Linked DNA regions of Homo sapiens: region 2 is linked to region 1. Evidence: fine-mapped expression QTL. A gene starts in region 1. The other region holds a variant in brackets. All regions are shown on one strand. Distances are between the middles of the regions.

Evidence for each region. PIP is the estimated chance that this variant, and not a neighbour inherited with it, causes the effect. A credible set is the group of variants that fine-mapping cannot tell apart.
Region 2: its variant is the best candidate, but not a certain one, in a credible set for the expression of POLR3K in monocytes (Quach 2016, PIP 0.84).

Annotation. Positions count from the first base shown.
Region 1 is chr16:46,680-57,977 of GRCh38, reverse strand. It overlaps POLR3K (RNA polymerase III subunit K), which reads left to right and starts at 4,370. Exons shown (of 3, transcript NM_016310.5): 1 at 4,370-4,502; 2 at 6,333-6,420; 3 at 10,421-11,298. The coding sequence starts at 4,392. The coding sequence ends at 10,548. It overlaps SNRNP25 (small nuclear ribonucleoprotein U11/U12 subunit 25), which reads right to left and starts at 4,150. Exons shown (of 5, transcript NM_024571.4): 1 at 3,920-4,150; 2 at 2,429-2,519; 3 at 2,096-2,201; 4 at 1,365-1,439; 5 at 309-892. The coding sequence starts at 3,961. The coding sequence ends at 835. RefSeq lists silencers at 3,800-3,899, 4,040-4,359 and enhancers at 4,690-4,849, 4,578-5,104.
Region 2 is chr16:93,152-101,151 of GRCh38, reverse strand. NPRL3 (NPR3 like, GATOR1 complex subunit) reads left to right here. Exons shown (of 14, transcript NM_001077350.3): 8 at 643-780; 9 at 2,851-3,007; 10 at 7,827-7,933. Among named protein-coding and RNA genes, the nearest start is that of MPG, 19 kb to the right of the region's middle. The variant C/G (reference allele first, on the strand shown) is at 3,399.

The DNA.
Region 1 (11,298 bases):
GGGCAGGGAACTGAGTGTCAGATACAGTCACGGGCTCTTTCACTTCCCAGTGAAATCCTTCAGCCAGGCACGTGCACCTTGCTCTTTCTTAGAGTGGCTGGTAGCCGACGCTGGGACAGGGACCTAGGGATGTACTGTCATACCCTCCCCACATGCTGGGAAGCACCCCGCCCCCACCCTTAGCAGCTCCAATTTCCACCCCACACTCCCTCCCTGTCCACCGAACCTGCTGCAGGGAACCCTAAAGGCTGAGGCTGGAGGGCCCACACACAGCTGTGCTATGCTTGCTGCCACTGTGAGCTCCAGGATGCAAACCCTAAAGCCGCTCTGCTTTTATTTCCTCCTTGCTGTGGAGATCATGGTAACACAGTTGTGTGGTTTGGGGAGTGGTGTGGCCTCAAGGCTTTGGTGGTGTGGCGCCATCTTGGACTATAGGACTCGCCTGTACCAATTCTCTCCCCTTAACTCACCTCTGTGATGGGGCAATCTCAGTCTTTGCTACCCAGGTTACTGTGGCTTTCTACTTTTCAAACTAAGAAGCAAACAGGTTTATTTTATACAGTGGGCCAGGCCGTGGGTCTGCCATGTGACTAGGGCATTTGGACCTAGGGAGAGGTCAGTCTCAGGCCAAGTACATGAAAGGAGGGAGCACTGGCTCACCCTGTCCTAGTCCTGAGGGCCCCCAGGTTTATGCTGACAGTTACTGTTGGGCATGCCTGGGGTGAGGCCACCACAACGTCCTTTCTGTGAAAGAGGCACGATGATTCGAGGACCCATTCCTGCTGGGAAAAAGCTCAGCCACCAGTGATGAAGAGGGTTGTCCTGTCTGGAGGCTCACTTTTGCCTCAGCTTTTTGATGAAGGAAACCTCGTCTCGATTCCGGATGCCGTAGCTGAAAAAGAAGGAAAGGCATAAAGCACCTGCCCTACAGAAGGACATATCTGTGACTCCCCTCCTGAGGCTGTGGAGGACCACGAAGAAACAACAGAGGGGAGGCGTGTGGCTTCTGGGAAGGCCAGGAAGTGCAGTGGCCATCCTCTCACAGACCCAGAAGCACTCCGACTCACAAGTCCCCGGGGCAGGGAACTGAGTGTCAGATAGAGTCACAGCCTTTCGCCTCCATGCCCACTCTGATTTCCTCCCTCCTGGCACTGTGTAGCCCTAAGCTGCCACTGGTGGGAAGCAGCAAGGCCCCTCCAGCTGCCCTCTGCCTGCCATTCTCCTAGTGGGGAGGGCCCCAAGGAAGCTCCTTGGAGGAGGGTGTTATCTCCGGAGAGGGAGCCGCAGCCCTCTGGCAGAGCATGGGGGACTAAGGGGCAACAGAACAGCGGTGCCCTACGGCTCAGGACGTGGCCGGCACTTACTCTCGGAGCTTCTTTCTGTCTTCCGTGAGTTTCTCTCCTGCAGAGGTCAGATGGTACGTCCTCCACACGTAGGACCTGCAAGAGGGGAATGCAGGTAAACCACGTGCCCTGAGCAGGGTGAGCTGAGTGGCTCTGCATGACGTGGGCTTGAGGCATGCAGTCCTATGGGACCTGGGGCAGCTGTCCTCCCTACCTGGGCTGTTCTGTACAATGTGCAGATTGGGTCTGAGGCAGCTACAAGGAGGCTCTGTTCTCAGAGGGCTGTCTGGGGCGGCTTGGCCAAACAAACCTTGCTAATGCAACAGGCGACAGTGTTGAGACTCAGTGAACAGGATAGTTGATCCAATAGGAGAGTGAGGGCTGACAGCACCCAGGTGAGAAGGGGATGGGAGCCCCTACAGGTGTACCATCCAAAACTAGGGAGGCCACTTCCAGACACACTGGAAATTCCCGACAGTGTCCCCAAGTGAAGATACCCAGCAGCTCGGATGGGGTGATGCCGATGGAAGAGCAGAATGTTGGGGATGGCCGAGGCAGGAGTCCCAGGCACAGAACGACCCGCACTGTCTGTGACAGGGAGCTCATCACTCTTGTGACAGGGAGCTCATCACTTCAGTGGTGCTGTACTCATGCAGAGCTGAGAGCTGTTTCCAGGTGGTGCCTGGTGACAGTGCCAAGAAGGGCACTAGCCCCACGAAGGGCTATAATGAAGGGAATGTTGTTCCACTTACCAGCTGATGTGCTGAATGCCCCCTTCACGCTCCTGCTTGAGCTGCACGTATCTCTGGATGGCCTTCTTCAGGTCCAGGACTGTGGCACTCTGCACTACAACCACGGCTGCAACCACGGACACAGATGGGAGAAGATCCATGGTGAGAACCCAAAGCCACAGCCTCCGATGGCAGGAAAGGAACCAACACCTCTGTGCACAGGGCAGGTTTGTGGTTGCCCCAGTACCCCTGGGCATGGCCTGTGAGTTTCTGAGCAGGCTGACCAGCACTGTTAGGTCTTCCTGCTGTGAAAGCCTGGACCACATAACCTGAAGGGAGGAGGGTAGCACTTACGCATTACTTCTCCATCCATCTTGCACACTCGGACCGTCATTGCCTGGCCGTATTCTAGGGCTATTTGGGAGTTGACTTCTTCCAGAGTAACCTACAAAAGACCAAGGGCAGAAGTGGGAACCCTGGCTCTCTTTACCACCTTGAGCAACAACAAAGAACAAGCCGATAGTGGCCAAAAAGTGGTGCTCCATTTTACGAAGGGCAAGGAAGGGTGGTTGCCTGTACGTTATGGTTTCCCAATTCATCAGAGCCCCAATCTCATGTTCCACTCACATTTTAATGTCCATAGTGGACAGAGTCTCTGGGGGAAAGAGGTGCTAAGAAACAGGCAAGAGAATAAACTCACATGAGGACCTGCCCCCAGGGGTGGGTAGAGGCCTGTCAGTTCACGCTGAGTATATCCCTGATCATCAGGACCCAGGCCAGGCTTCGGGACTGAGTAAGGCAGGTGTGCAAAATTTACCGGGGCAGCAAAACACGGTAATAACAATAAATATTTTAATACAACATTTAAGAAATACAAGGCAATTAAAATATCCATGATGAGCAAAATATAAAACATTTAAAATTGGCCGGGCGCGGTGGCTCACGCCTGTAATCCCAGCACTTTGGGAGGCCGAGGCGGGCGGATCATGAGGTCAGGAGATCAAGACCATCCTGGCCCAACATGGTGAAGCCCCGTCTCTACTAAAAATACAAAAAATTAGCCGGGCGTGGTGGCGCGTGCCTGTAGTGAACCCGGGAGGGGGAGGTTGCAGTGAGTCGAGATGGCACCACTACACTCCAGCCTGGCAACGGACCAAGACTCAGTCTCAAATAAATAAATAAATAAATAAAAAGACAGTATCGTCCCAAAGCATGATACTGACGCTTTGACACATGATTGACGCTTGAGGCAAATGGAACAATCAGTACTACTAATCTTGCTCTTATTTAAAACTAAATTTTTCTTTTACCGTAGGCTCTTTTTTTGCCTCAACTTTGACTTTTAAAGGTATTACAGGCCAGGCGGGTGGCTCACACCTAAATCCCAGCATTTTGGGAGGCCGAGGCAGGAGGATCGCCTGAGCCCAGGAGTTTCAGATCAGCCTGGGCAACATAGTGAGACTCCCTCTGTACAAAATATTTAAAAATTAGCCGGGTGTGGTAGCGCGCACCTGTGGTCCCAATTACTCGGGAGGCTGAGGTGGGAGGACGCCGCTGCACTCCAGCCCGGGCAACGCAGCAAGACCCTGTCCCCCGAGCCCCCTAAATACAATTACATTAAAATGTCATTTGATGTCACTCACTAATGAGGTTTTTGGTTCCTCTTTAAGCTTCGCGCCCCAGGCGAGTGCGCCCGGTCAAGGTTAAAACCCTCGTTTACGCCCAGAGGCGCCTTCCTCAGCCTTGGGCCGCAGTCTCCCACCAGCACCTTCGGAGGCTGCCGGCGCCCGGATGCCCGGACCCCGGGGAACGACTCCCGCGCCCCCAGCCCCCGCCCGCACACACCTGGATCGGCAGATCGCAGAGCAGCGGGTCCTGCACCACCATAGCCAGACCCTCCTGGAACACGTCCATGGCCTCGGAGTGCGGCAGCGCCTCTTCTTCGTCCTCATCTTCCTCTTGCGCCTCGGGCCCACCCGCGGCCTCCGTCTCCTCCAGGGCCGCCCCTCTCAGCCGGGCTCTGCCCGCACTGCCAGCCCGCACTAGGGAGGCCAAGCGCGCACGCGCAGGAACTGCGGCCCGCCCCAGCGAGGCCGCCCAGCCACTGGCGCGCCGGGGGGGGTGGGGCGGCTGCAGTGACCAATGACAAGTGCGAGACAGCCTGCAGCAGGGCCGGGAGCGCAGAATCGCCCTGTCTATTGGTTGGTTGGTGTGGCGGGAAGGCTGCCAGGACCAATGTGAGCTCGAGGCGGGCGGCGCATCGGCGCTGAGCGGCAGTGGGAGCTGCCGGGAGTTGGAGCCTGCGGAGTTCGAGACCATGCTGCTGTTCTGCCCCGGCTGCGGGAACGGGCTGATCGTGGAGGAGGGACAACGCTGCCACCGCTTCGCCTGCAACACGTGCCCCTACGTGCACAACATCACCCGCAAGGTGGGACCCGAAGGCCGGCGCTGGGCGCGGGCGACTCTCGCAGGCCTTCCGCGTCCTCCGACTGCTGCTCCATCGCCGCCAGCCCCGGCGTCTGCCTCTGTCCGCTCTTTCTCGCGCCCCTTTCTGGTCTGCAGCAGATCTGTGGGCTCTACTTTCCAATACACTCAGAAAGCCCCACCGTTTCCCACCGCCTTGGGTTCCTGCTCCCACGCTCGCGCCCTTCTCTGCGTTCACAGCGGCGGCCACGGTGATTTCCTTAAAGCTGAGGCACGCAGGTCCGTGCTGTGCGCAGAAACCTTCGGCTCTTCTCCAGCTCACGCAGACGAAAAGCCGGAGTTCTCCCAGGGCCTACCAGGTTCCGACACTGACTCCCTCCCCTGCGTGCGTCTCCGATTTCAAGTCCTAATGCCCTTCCTGTTGCCCTTTGCCGCATCAACACCGCCTCCTGGACGATCTCTCATCGTGCTCATGGTGCTAGCAGGGCCTTTGCACTTGCTGTTGCTCAGTTCACTCTTCCCCTAGATCGCCACCTTACTCATTGGTCTTGTCTTTACCGTATTTTAAATTTCAGCCCCTCCTTCCAATTTATTCTCCTTCCCTTTGTAATTGTTTCCATAGGGCTTATTACCTTCTAATATATTATGTAATGTATTGTGTGCTTTCTTTATTTTTTTTTATTGTTTTTTTTTTTTTTTTTTTTTTTTTTTTTTGAGACGGAGTCCCGCTCTGTCGCCCAGGCTGGAGTGCAGTGGCGCGATCTCGGCTCACTGCAAGCTCTGCCTCCCGGGTTCACGCCACTCTCCTGCCTCAGCCTCCCAATTAGCTGGGACTACAGGCGTCCGCCACCACCCCTGGCTGATTTTTTTGTATTTTTAGTAGAGATGGGGTTTCACCGTGTGTTAGCCAGGACGGTCTCCTGACCTCGTGATCTGCCCGCCTCGGCCTCCCAAAGTGCTGGGATTACAGGCGTGAGCCACCGCGCCCGACCTTTTTTTTTTTTTTTTTTTTTTTTTTTTTTTTTTTTTTTTTGAGACAGAGTCTCGCTCTGTTTCCCAGGCTGGAGTGCAATGGCGTAATCTCGGCTCACTGCAACCTCTGCCTCCCGGGTTCAAGCAATTCTTCTGCCTCGGCTTCCCGAGTAGCTGGAATTACAGGCGCCTGCCACCATCCCCGGCTAATTTTTGTATTTTTAGTAAAGACGGGGTTTCACCGCGCTGGCCAGGCTGGTCTCGAACTCCCAACCTCAGGTGATCCGCTTGCCTTGGCCTCCCAAAGTGCTGGGATTATAGGCGTGAGCCACCACGCCTGGCCAGAATACCTTTACTTTTTAGCAGTTAGAATATGTTGGTGCTACGTCAGTCTTAATGTTTGCATGCTACTCCAGTTTGTACTGTGTTGTGGGAGTTTGGAGTTTGAAACTACGGGAAGAGTGAACTCTTTGTTTTTTTTTTTTTTTGAGATGGAGTCTTGCTCCGTAGCCCAGGCTGGAGTGCAGTGGTGTGATCTCGGCTCACTGCAAGCTCCGCCTCCCAGGTTCACACCATTCTCCTGCCTCAGCCTCCTGAGTAGCTGGGACTACAGGCGCCCGCCAACACGCCGGGCTAATTTTTTGTATTTTTAGTAGAGACAGGGTTTCACCGTGTTAGCCAGGATGGTCTCGATCTCTTGACCTCGTGATCCGCCCGTCTTGGCCTCCCAAAGTGCTGGGATTACAGGTGTCAGCCACCACGCCCAGCCGAGTGAACTCTTATGTAATCCTGAAATTTAAGGTTTGGCAGCCCAGGTTTGCGCTATTCAGTTACTTGGAGTCTGAAGTGTTGTTTTTGTTAGGTAACAAATCGGAAGTACCCAAAACTGAAAGAAGTGGATGATGTGCTTGGTGGAGCAGCTGCCTGGGAGAATGTTGACTCTACTGCAGGTAAGAGGGAAAACTGTTTCTGTTGCTAAACTGTGGATAATTATGAGGCTGTTGATGCCACTGCTTGGCAGAGTCTATGATGTCATATAAATGATGTAGGTTTCTAAAAATAGAAAATGGTTCTTGAATAATTTATTTGTATTTGTTACTGTTTAATAATCTGTCAGACAAGCAATATTTGTGCCAGCCTTGGAGTCATACAGGCCCGGGTCAGATTCTCAGGGCAACCTTGTATTGTTGTAGGACCTTCCTTGGGTCTCTTGACTTCTCTGGGGCTAATCCATATTCGTAGACCGCGAGAGCATAAAGTGAATTATACCGTGCTTGGTATATAAGAGGCACTCAACAGGTGATAGCTTTGATAATGGCAATGATGAGTAGATTAATAAAAATAAGAGTCTAAGGAAAAAAGTATGTTCTTTCTGTTTGATATGGTTTGGCTGTGTCTCCACCCTAATCTCATCTTGAATTATAGTTTCCGTAATCCCCAGGTGTCCTGGGAGGGGCCCAGTGGGAGGTAATTGAATCATGGGAGCGGTTTCCCCCCATGCTGTTCTCCTGATAGTGAGTGAGTTCTCACAAGATCAGATCGTTTTATAAGCGTTTGCGTTTCCCCTGCTCGCACTCATTCTGTCTCCTGCTGCTCTGTGAAGAGGTTCCTTTCGCCATGATTGTAGGTTTCCTGAGGCATCCCCAGCCACGCAGAACTGTGAGTAAATTAGACCTCTTTTCTTGGCTGGGTGTCGTGGCTCACGCCTGTAAATCCCAGCAGTTTGGGAGGCCAAGGTAGGCAGATCACTTGAGGTCAGGAGTTCCAGACCAGCCTGGCCCGCATGGTGAAACCCTGTCTCTATTAAAGATAAAATAATTAGCCGGGTGTGGTGGCGCTCGCCTGTAGACCCAACTGCTCAGGAGGCTGAGGTACGAGAATTGCTTGAACCCAGGAGGCAGAGGTTGCAGTGAGCCGAGATCACACTACTGCACTCTAGCCTCGGTGACAAGAGTGAGACTCTGTCTCAAAACAAACAAAACCCCTTTTGTCTATATAAATTACCCAGTCTCAGGTATTCATAGCAGTGTGAGAACGGACTAATACACGCTTCTAATATAGATTTTTAGAAGTTAATACCAGTGAGCATTAAACTGCAGATTGGGTAAAATACATGTTTATTGCATGTCTGGTAGACATAGATGTGGCCAGGAGAGGAAAGGGGAAGACGTAAATGTAAGTTATATTGAGAGGTGAGAGAGATAACTGATGGTTAGTACTGTGGTTTTCCCCCTATAAAAGAACATATAGGCTGGGTGTGGTGGCTCACGCCTGCAATCTCAGCACTTTGGGAGGCCGAGGCGGGCGGATCACCTGAGGTCAGGAGTTCGAGACCAGCCTGGCTAACACGGTGAAACCCCATTTCTGCTAAAAATACAAAAAATTAGCCAGGCGTGGTGGCAGCACCTGTAATCCCAGCTACTCGGGAGGCTGAGACAGGAGAATCGCTTGAACCCGGGAAGTGGAGGTTGCAGTGAGCCAAGATTGCATCATTGCACTCCAGCCTGGGCAACAAGAACGAAACTCTGTCAAAAAAAAGAACATACAAATCTGCTATGTGAAAAAGTTAGCAGCTGGCACGGTGGCTCACACCTATAATCCCAGCATTTTGGGAGGCCAATGTGGGCGGATCACGAGGTCAAGACATCGAGACCATCCTGGCCAACATGGTGAAACCCCGTCTCCACTAAAAATACAAAAAGTAGCTGAGCGTGGTGGTGCCTGCCTGTAATCCCAGCTACTTGGGAGGCTGAGACAGGAGAATCGCTTGAACCTGTGAGGCGGAGGTTGTAGTGAGCTGAGATCGTGCTATTGCACTCTAGCCCAGGCAACAGGAGCAAAACTCCGTCTCAAAAAAAAAAAAAAAACAAATTAGCCAGGCTCAGTGGCGCGTGCCTGTAGTCCTAGCTACTCAGGAGGCTGAGGCAGGAGAATTGCTTGAACCAGGAGGCGGAGGTTGCAGTGAGCCGAGACCATGCCACTCCAGCCTGAGTGAGACTGTCTAAAAAAAAAAAATCTTTTTACCTAATGTCAGAAATAGAGTGTTTGAAGCCATTTCTGTCAGGTGTAGGATAAGTTTCTCAAAGTGAAATCGCTTTGAAGAGTGCAATGGTGTGATCTCGGCTCACTGCAACCTCCACTTCCCAGGTTCAAGTGATTCTCCTTCCTCGGCCTCATGAGTAGCTGGGATTACAGGCATGCGCCACCACGCCCAGCTAATTTTGTATTTTTAGTAGAGATGGGGTTTCTCCATGTTGATAAGGCTGGTCACGAACTCCCGACCTCAGGTGATCTGTTGGCCTCAGCCTCCCAAAGTGCTGGGATTACAGGCCTGAGCCACTGTGCCTGGCTTTTTTTTTGAGATGGAGTCTCTTTTGCCCAGGCTGGAGTGTAGTGGCACGATCTCTGCTCACTGCAAACCTATGCTGCCCGGGTTCAAGCGATTCTCCTGCCTCAGCCTCCCTAGTAGCTGGGATTACAGGCACCTGCCACCACGCCCGGCTAATTTTTGTAGTTTTGGTAGAGACGGGGTTTCACCATCTTGGCTAGGCTGGTCTTGACCTCCCGACCTCGTGATCCACCTGCCTCAGCCTCCCAAAGTTCTGGGATTACAGGCAAGAGCCACCATACCCGGCCTCTTCTCTTCTTTTCAGCCCACACCAGAATCGCCCTTAATGCTCAATTCTTTTTTTTTTTTGAGATGGAGTCTCACTCTGTTGCCCAAGCTGGAGTGCAGTGGCGCGATCTCGGCTCACTGCAAGCTCCGCCTCCCGGGTTCACGCAATTCTCTTGCCTCAGCCTCCCGAGTAGCTGGGACTGCAGGCACCCGACACCACGCCTGGCTAATTTTTTGTGTTTTTAGTAGAGACGGGGTTTCACCATGTTAGCCAGGATGGTCTCGATCTCCTGACCTCGTGATCCGCCTGCCTTGGCCTCCCAAAGTCCTGGGATTACAGGCGTGAGCCACCGCGCCCGGCCCTTAATGCTCAATTCTTGACAATGCAGGCTTTTCCCAGCATTTACTTCAAAACTCTTCCACCATCTAACCATTACTTAGTCTTAGGCATTTTGTTACAGCAGCACAAAATGGACCAAAACAGTCACCTTCCATGTTACGTTTCCAACCAGCCTTCAGCTGGATTTGAGAAGAACCATGGGACTCAGGGAGGGGAGGGGGAGAGTGTGTGAGTCACAGGTCTCCCAGATTCCCTTAGTGTTACAGCGTGGTGGGAATGACATCACTGTTTGTAGATCTACCCTTGTCAAGGGGGATCAAATGAGCAGGGAGGTTCTTTACCATCTTTAAAGATATTAAGTAGTCTGGGCACGGTGGCTCATGCCTGTAATCCCAGCACTTTGGGAGGTTGAGGTGGGCGGATCATGAGGTCAGGAGTTCGAGACCAGCCTGGCCAACATAGTGAAAACCTGTCTCTACTAAAAATACAAAAAAATTAGCCGGGTGTGGTGGCGGGCAACTGTAATCCCAGCTACTTGGGAGGCTGAGGCAAGGAGAATCACATGAACCCGGGAGGCAGAGGTTGCAGTGAGCTGAGATCGCCCCACTGCACTCCAGCCTGGGTGACTGCGAGATTCCATCTCAAAAAAAAAAAAAAAAGATATTATAGTAATACCTACTTTTTTTTTTTTTTTTTTTTTTTGAGTGCAGTGGCACGATCTTGGCTCACTGCAATCTCTGCCTCCTGGGTTCAAGCGATTCTCCTGCCTCAGCCTCCCAAGTAGCTGGGATTAAAGGCGCCCGCCACCACGCCTGGCTAATTTTGTATTTTTAGTAGAGATGGGGTTTCACCATGTTGGCCAGGATGGTCTCGAACTCCTGACCTCAGGTGATCCGCCCGCCTTGGCCTCCCACATATTAAGTAATACCTACTTTTGACAGCCATGAGTAGCATCTTTTTTTAAATGTGGTCACTTCTTTTTTCTCATTGCCAGAGTCGTGTCCCAAATGCGAACATCCTCGTGCTTACTTCATGCAGCTTCAGACCCGCTCTGCAGATGAGCCGATGACCACCTTCTACAAGTGCTGCAATGCTCAGTGTGGACACCGCTGGAGGGATTAGGGCCAGGATGGCCCAGCTGCCCTAGTGTGTGCTTGCCTTGTCCCTCGGGGTAGATGCTTAGCTGGCAGTATGAGTTGTGTGTCCTGAGGGTCTTTGCTAGTGTGGTGGAAAGATAAACCTTTTGAGGTGAAGAGCCAGGGGGTCAGGAAATATGGCCTATCTGCCAGGCAGGGTGGATGAAGTCATGAATGTCTGGGAGTTTTTCTGTGTGGGGAGGAGACAGAGACCCATAACTAAATATGCTCTGTGTAAAGTCCTATTCTTTCATCTTCCACTTTATTGGCAGTTGACATTCCCTTACTCCCAATCAACACTCTTAAATATTTGTACTGTTTGTAAAACTTAGTACATGTCCCTAAATATTTAACTGTTACTTGTAAACTTGTGTAATTTATTATTTATTTTAATCAAAATTCTGAATATTTCATTTAAATGAAAGTTGGAATATTGCCTTCTCAGTGTTTTAAATAGCTTAAGAGGTAGAAAGCAAACCCCAAATCACAGTGATCCCAGAATAGACTACATACTTACATTTGAACAGGCTACGAAAATGTTAATCACCGGGATTTCAATTTCTTTCTTTATTCCTATTCTTACTCCCTTATTCATTTTTTTGAACCTCCCCTGATTTGCTTCCTCGGGTTGCTTTAAATGTATAAGATACTATTTATTTATTTATTTATTTTATTTATTTATTTATTTATTTAAGACAGAGTCTTGTTCTGTCGCCCAGGCTGGAGTGCAGTGGTA
Region 2 (8,000 bases), 45 kb before region 1:
CCAGGGGTCTGGACGGGCAGGGGCCTGAGTTAGAGTGCCTCTAGTGCACTGAGTCCCCAGGACAGGGTACGGCTTCTCTCAAGCCCTGGCAGTCTGGTTGGACTACAGATTCCAGGGCTAGCCAGAAATATGTTTCTCTTTTTCTTTCTTCTTCTTCTTCCTTTTTTTTTTTTTTTTTTTTGAGACAGAGTCTTGCCTTGTTGCCCAGGCTGGAGTGCAGTGGCGTGATGTTAGCTCACTGCAACCTCCACCTCCTGGGTTCAAGTGATTCTCCTGCCTCAGCCTCCCGAGTAGCTGGGACTACAGGCGCCCGCCACCACACCTGGCTAATTTTTGTATTTTTAGTAGAGACGGGGTTTCACCGTGTTATTAGCCAGGCTGGTCTCGAACTGCTGACCTCGTGATCCGCCCACCTTGGCCTCCCAAAGTGCTGGGATTACAGGCATGAGCCACCGTGCCCGGCCCCCATATTTTCTTTTCTTAAACATAATGTGATCTTAAGAGATGCTCTCCTGCCCGGGTCTCCACCTGCAGTTTCCCCTAAGCAGCAGGGGAATCAGCACCATTGAGCAGGGTGTTTTCTGATCTGTGTGCATGGTTAGAAAGTTTATGTGAACGGGTAACAGCGCCCACTCTCTGCAGCCTGTGCACGTCGGGCGTAGTTCGGCTTCACATCAACAGCTGGCTGGAGGTGAGCTTCTGCCTGCCCCACAAGATCCACTATGCGGCCTCCAGTCTGATCCCCCCAGAGGCCATCGAACGGAGCCTGAAAGCCATCCGGTAAGTGCCCAGCCCCACGTGCTCACTCCCTGCCAGGGCCCTTCCCTTTAGCTTCTGCCTGAGATTTTACCACTTACTTTGTTCCAAAATTTCTCTTTTTCTTCTTCCCACTGCGGAAGCTTGCAGGTGGGGCTCTGCCGTTTATAGAAGTTAAAACACATAATTTTGTATCCAGTTGTGTCCAGAAATGACCAATCCCAGGTTTCTCCTGGGCCCTTCTGGCACCACCTTAGGCTTGGGCAGGGCAGCCTGGATGTGGGGCTGAGTGTCCTTGGGGAGGCCGGAGGGCTGGAGGGACTTCATCTTAATGGTGTTGCCCTACCCCAGTCTTTTGCATTTCAGTCAGCACTCATGGGATCTCAGTTATTTTCTTTTTCTTTTTTTTTTCTTTTTCTTTTTTTTTTTTTTTTTTGCGGGGGTGTGTGTGTGTGTGAGAGAGAGACAGAGTTTTGATCTTATCGCCCAGGCTGGATTTCAGTAGTGCGATCCCGGCTCACCACTACGTCCACCTCCCAAGTTCAAGTGATTCTCCTGCCTCAGGCTCCCGAGTAGTTGGGATTACAGGCGCCCACTGCCATGCCTGGCTAATTTTTTTGGTACTTTTAGTAGAGACAGGGTTTCACCATGTTGGCCAGACTGGTCTCGAACTCCTGACCTCAGGTGATCCACTCATCGCTCATCTCAGCCTCCCAAAATATACTTTCTTAATTTAATTGACTTTTTTTTTTTTTTTTTTGAGATGTAGTCTTGCTCGGGGCTCAAGTGCAGTGGCACAGTCTCCACTCAGTGAAGCCTCTGTCTCCCGGGTTCAAGCGATTCTCCTGCCTCAGCCCCCTGAGTAGCTGGGATTATGGGTGCACACCACTACACCTGGCTAATTTTTGTATTTTTAGTAGAGATGGGGTTTCACCATGTTGGCCAGGCTCGTCTTGAACTCCTGACCTCGTGATCCACCCGCCTCGGCCTGCCAAAGTGCTGGGTTACAGGTGTTAGCCACCATGCCCTGGCAATTTAATTGATTTTCTGCAAGGAAAGAACTGAGCCCAGTCTTCTGGCACCACCTGTTCCCAAGTCCCCCAATACCTTGAACATTTTTTAATTATAAAAATATATCTGGGCACATTGCTGAAAATTTGGAAATGACAGAAAGCAAAGCGCTGCCTAGTTCCACCCTCCCCAGTCCGTGCTCTTTGCTTTCAATCCTAGCTAAGCATATTTTAATGTACTTTGGTCCCTAGTCTGTGAGGAGGATTTTGCTTTTCCCATATTTGGGACAATTTCCTTAGGAAAGATTCATTCATGTCTTCAATCAACAGATGTTTGCTGGGCGTCTCTGAGGTGGGATACAGAGTCCAGTCTTCGAGCCTTCCCCACTTTTGTCGTGTTTTTTTCCGAGGGTGACATAATCCTTGCAGGTTTTGTTTTTGTTGTTTTTGAGACAGAGTCTCACTCTGTCGCCAGGCTGGAGTGCAATGGCGCAATCTCGGCTCACTGCAAGCTCCGCCTCCCAGGCTCAAGTGATTCTCCTGCCTCAGCCTGCCGAGTAGCTGGGACCCCAGGTGGGTGCAACCACACCCGGATAATTTTTTTATTTTTAGTAGAGATGGGGTTTCACCATGTTGGCCAGGCTGGCCTCGAACTCCTGACCTCACGTGACCTGCCTGCCTTGGCCTCCCAGAGTGCCGGGATTATAGGCATGAGCCAGTCCTTGGCAGATTTTGTGAAGGCCTCCAAACAGACCACTGCCCTTTTCTCAAATCCCGCTCTTGGCCCTTCTCTCCGCAGTTAAGGGCCAGGAGGCTCCAGCTGCCTGTTTGTGTCCCAGGTGCATACCTGATGCACACCCGGTGCAGGACCTCGTGCAGGACCTGGTGCATACCTGGTGCAGGGTTCCCTGCACTTCGTATGTTCCGTGTGTTTGAGTCCCAGGTGCATACCTGGTGCATACCCGGTGCATACCTGGTGCAGGACCTGGTGCATACCCGGTGCATACCTGGTGCAGGACCTGGTGCATACCCGGTGCAGGGTTCCTGCACTTCGTGTGTTCCGTGACAGGTGATTGTTTTGCAGCCCCTACCATGCCCTGCTGCTGCTCAGTGATGAGAAGTCCTTGCTGGGTGAGCTTCCTATTGACTGCTCCCCTGCCCTAGTGCGGGTGATCAAGACCACATCTGCTGTGAAGAACCTGCAGCAGCTAGCCCAAGATGCGGACCTGGCCTTGCTGCAGGTATAGCTCTGGAGGCCCAGATGGGTGGCATGTGGCGGTGCTGGGGCATCAGGAAAGGCAGGCCGCCTGCCACAGTACATCCACAGGGGCTGTGTCCAGCTGAGAGCCGCGGCACAGCCCACCATGGGGTGGGGCCAGTCCCTGGGATGGCTGGAGGTTTTGGCATCTGAGTCAGACCTGGGTTCAGGGCTGGCTTTGTGAGTGAGCCACGGGACTGACTTGTTCTTCTGTCTCAGAGAGGTAAGGCGAGTCTGTGAGAGAAAGGACTGGGGTGCTTGCAGTCCTGGAGGTTGAGGCACCAGAGCTAGGGGGTGGGCAGGGCAGCAGCGGGCAGGGCCATGGGGGTCTCACAGTGGTGCATGAACAACATACGGGAACTAAGGGCAGGAAG[C/G]TTGGATGCGGGGCCCTCCCATGTGCAGAACAGAGACCTAACCTGGTGGCCTTACGCCCCTGTGTGTGCACATGTGTTGGCCTGTGCACTCTGTACAAGATGCCACGTCCTTGCTGAGCCACATGCTTATGGGCCTGTCCATGCAGAGGGCTGCCCTTTCTGATTAGATGGAGGGCCCCTCAGCCTCGTCTGCGGATCTGGTTGGAGTGTGGGAGGAAAAGCGCAGGCAAGGCTGGGCACGGTGGCTCATGCCTGTCATCCTAGCCCAGGACTTTGAGACCAGCCTGAGCAACATGGCAAAACCCCGTCTCTACAAAAAATACAAAAAAAAAAAAAAAAAAAATAGCTGGGTGTGGTGGCGTGCACCTGTAGTCCCAGCTACTTGGGGGTATGAGGTGTGAGGATCAATTGAGCCTGGGAGGCAGAGGTTGCAGTTAGCTGAGATTGTGCCACTGTACTCCAGCCTGGGCGACTCTGTTTCCAAAAAAAAAAAAAGCACGGGGAGAAATCAGAAGCAGGGGCTGCTGATGGGGTGGCCAACAGGCCATGGGATCAGCTGTGGCTGCTAGTCATGTGGGCGTGGCCCAGAGCCACGGGACCATTGAAATACTGCCTGAGGGTGGGAGCAGGTGGTGCCTGTGGGTGGCGCCCTCGTCTGGTGGCGGTGTGCACAGCATGGCCACCAGGGGGCAGCAGAGGCTGCCGAGGAACACAGGCGTGAGGTGGGCCCGCCTGGGTCCCTCTGGCTGAGCTTCCATGCTCTTTTGGCCTGTGAAACAGGTCTCTGCTTAGCACGTTAGGGGAACTTGTCCAACAAGGCCTGACTCTCAGGCCACTTTTCCCCGAAAGCAGCCTTTTTGGATTCTGTCTTTGAGAGTAAGTCTCCCGCCTCTGTATCTCAGGACCCTTTATCTATCCTCTGTGAGAGCACTTACCAAATTGTGCCCTTGTATTTCTTTTTTCTTTTCTGAGACAGGTTCTTGCTCTGTCTCCCAGGCTGGCATGTGGTGGTGCCATCATGATCCACCCAGGCTCAAGCATCCTCCCAAGTAGCTGGGACTACAGGTGTGCGCCTGGCTAATATTTTTTTTTTTTTTTTTTTTTTGGTAGAGACGGGGTTTCCCTATGTTGCCCTGGCTGGCCTCATACTCCTGGGCTCAAGTGATCATCGCACCTTGGCCTCCTAAAGGGCTGGTATTACAGGCATGAGCCACCATGCCCAGCTGTGCCTTTGGACTTCATGGGCTGGACAGGACTCAGTAAACACCATGTCCTGCCCACCTTCATAGCATTCAGGAGACAGAGAATTTTAAAAGAACTCACCACTCCATACAACCCTGCAGAGTGAGGGAGGCAGTGACCCTCCGTGTCCTGATGAGCACCGACCACATGGTAAATGCCTGTGGCTGTTCACTGGTCCTGTGTTGAGCTTTTGAAAGGAGCTGGGCCTGGCTTTCCTGAGGCTGTCTGGCAGGAGTTTGTGCTGGACACTGTGCCTCTCATCCTTGCTGTCAGAGTCTCCTTGGACAAAGCTTTGATGCCCTCTTCTGAGGTTGTCTGGCAGGAGTTTGTGTGGACAGTGTGCCTCTCACCCTTGCTCTCAGAGTCTCCTTGGACAAAGCTTTGGTCTCCTTTTGATGTCCCCTTCACTTCCCTGCCGTGGCCTTGACTGGGGAGAGGGAAGGCTGTTTGTCATTGTTTTCTTCTGTCTGTACCCCTTCCCTGCTGTCCCTGCTGCAGGTCAGCAGGGCGTTGCTGCTGGTGTGGCGGTGCGGAAGCCCCTGGGGCCCAGCCCTGGTGGGTCACTCTGTTTCCGGAGATAGCCCCCTGGGGAGCACCTGCCTCAGGTGTGAATGTCACCAGATAGTTTAAAGTCCCTCATGTGGCTGGGTGCAGTGGCTCATGCCTGTAATCCCAGCACTTTGGGAGGATGAGGCAGGAGGATTGCCTAAGCCCAGGAGGTCACGACCAGCCTAGGCAACATAGGAAGACCCTGTCTTTACAGAAAATTAAATAATTAGCTGGGCATGGTGGTGTGTGCCCATGGTCCCAGCTACTCAGGAGGCTGAGGTGGGAGGATCACTTGAGCCCTGGTGTTCGAGGCTGCAGTGAATTGTGATTTTACACACTGCAGTCTGGGCAACAGAGCAAGACCCAGTCTCAAAAAATAAAATAAAATAAAATTCTTCATGTTTATATCAATCCAGAGAGAATCTACAAGTAAATTTTGGGTGTGTCATGATAAAATTAGTATGTTACAAGACTTCAAACACTACACAAATTATAGACACAGAAAGTTCCCACAGTCCCATATCCCACAGGTAACCTAGATCCCTCCAGGTTTTTTATCTGTATATATACATTTTATTGTGTGTGTGTGTGTGTGTGTGTGTGTGTGTGTGTATATATATATATATATATATATATACACACACAAACATTTTATTTTGTATTATGAAAATTAGGATCGTGCTGTATATTCGTTGTGATTGGCTGAATAATGGCCCCCACAGATATACACATCCTAATCCCCAAAATCTATGAATGTGAACTCATGTGGGACTTTGGAGATGTTACTAAGTAGAAGATCTTGAGATGGGAAGATCATCCTGTTGAGCTCTAAATGTAATCTCTAAGGCCCTTATCAGAGGGAGGCAGAGGAAGATCTGATAAAAAGAGGCAGCGATGTGGCCACAGAGACAGAGTGGAGTGACGTGACCGCAAGCCAAGAGACACTGGCCGTTGAAGAGGCAGGACGAATTCTCTTCTGGAGCTTCCAGAGGGAGCCTGGTCCTGCTGGCACCTTATGCTTGCCCTTAAGTACTGATTTTGGATTTTCAATTTCCAGAATGGACAGCATCTTGGAGAGGCTGCTGCAGGGAGAGGCAGGAGGTGGAGACCACTATGCTGAGCAGAGCTGGGGGAAAGTGGGGGTGTCTTTTTGAGAGAGACATGCGAGTGGCACGTGGGGTGAGGGAACAGGGCGGTGATGGAGCTGAAACCTGCCATGTCGGGGTTGGCGGAGCCATTGGGGGCACTACTCGCACAATCTTGGCTCACTGCAACCCCCACCTCCCAGGTGCAAGCAATCCTCCTGTCTCAGCCTCCAAGTAGCTGGGACTACAGGCATGTGCCGCAGTGCCTGGCTAATTAAATAAAAATTTTTGGCAGAGATGAGGGTCTCACTATATTGCCCAGGTTGGTCTCGAACTCCGAGGTTCAGGCGATCCTCCTGCCTTGCCCTCCCAAAATGCTGGGACTACAGGCATGAGCCACTCACTCAGTCTGGAGGCCCTGTTTTCTGAGCTGAGGTATAAGTGTCCTCAGCAGCAGGGCAGCACGGTGTCCAGGCAGGGGTGACTCACCTCCACAGAGGCCTACCCGCCAAGAGGGTGGAGTGGTGTCCTGGGCTGATGCAGAGGCAGAAGTGCGAGAGCTTAGGATTTCACACACCTTTTCGTGAAGTGCTGGGGTGCTGTGCTCTCAGACCTCAGGCCTGAGCTTTCCTCTGGAAGGGGTTTGGGTTGTGTTTGTGTTTCCTGATGTTCAAGGGTCCACAAGAGCAAAGCTGGGAGGGGGGTCTCTGTGGGAGTCGGGGCACATGGGGCAGACCTGGGGCCTTTGGGTATGTAGGGGTGGCATGCTGAGTGACTCCACACCCATCATCGGGCAAGGCCATGCTGGAGTTTTAGGGGGTATAAGAGGGCTGTGCCCCTGCCAGGACATCCAGCTAAGCCCCCTGCCCAGCTGGGCCAGCACTGTGTTCCCAGCACCCCAGACATTCCCATGCTTGTGGCCTGAGACCACCATTCTTCAGTGGGAGTCAAGACAGCATAGGATGGGAAAACAGTGCCACCAAACAGCACAGGGAGCAGTGACAAAAAGGCCATTGTGGCCGGGTGCGGTGGCTCATGCCTGTAATCCCAGCACTTTGGAAGGCCAAGGTGGGTGGATCACGAGGTCAGATCGAGACCATCCTGGCCAACATGGTGAAACCCTGTCTCTACTAAAAATACAAAAATTAGCTGGGCGTGGTGGCATGTGCCTGTAATCCCAGCTACTCAGGAGGCTGAGGCAGGAGAATCGCTTGAACCTGGGAGGCAAGAGGTTGCAGTGAGCTGAGATTGTGCCACTGCACTCCAGCCTGGGCGACAGAGCAAGACTGTCTCCAAAAAAAAAAAAAAAAAAACCATTGCTCACAGAAAGTGCTGTGTGCTGGCTGTGCCCCACATCCTAGTGAGAGGTTGCGAAGGTGCTATTCCACGTTAGGGAGGAAGTCTCGGGCCATAGCCACCAGGTGTGTTCTGCATGAGGCTGGGGCCAGCTTCTCCAGGCTGGTAGGCCATGGCCACCCAGGCTGAGAGCTGCTGACAGCTCCCGGTGGGCCAGCCTCAGGCATGGTCCTTGCAGCTTCCCTTTTGCCTGCAGGTTTTCCAGCTTGCAGCTCATCTGGTGTACTGGGGCAAGGCCATCATCATCTACCCGCTGTGTGAGAACAACGTCTACATGCTGTCTCCCAATGCCAGCGTATGTCTGTGAGTGCTGCTGGCTGCCAGAGCCTGGAGCCCCGAGTGGGAAGGGGTGAGGCTGGCAGGGCCCTCC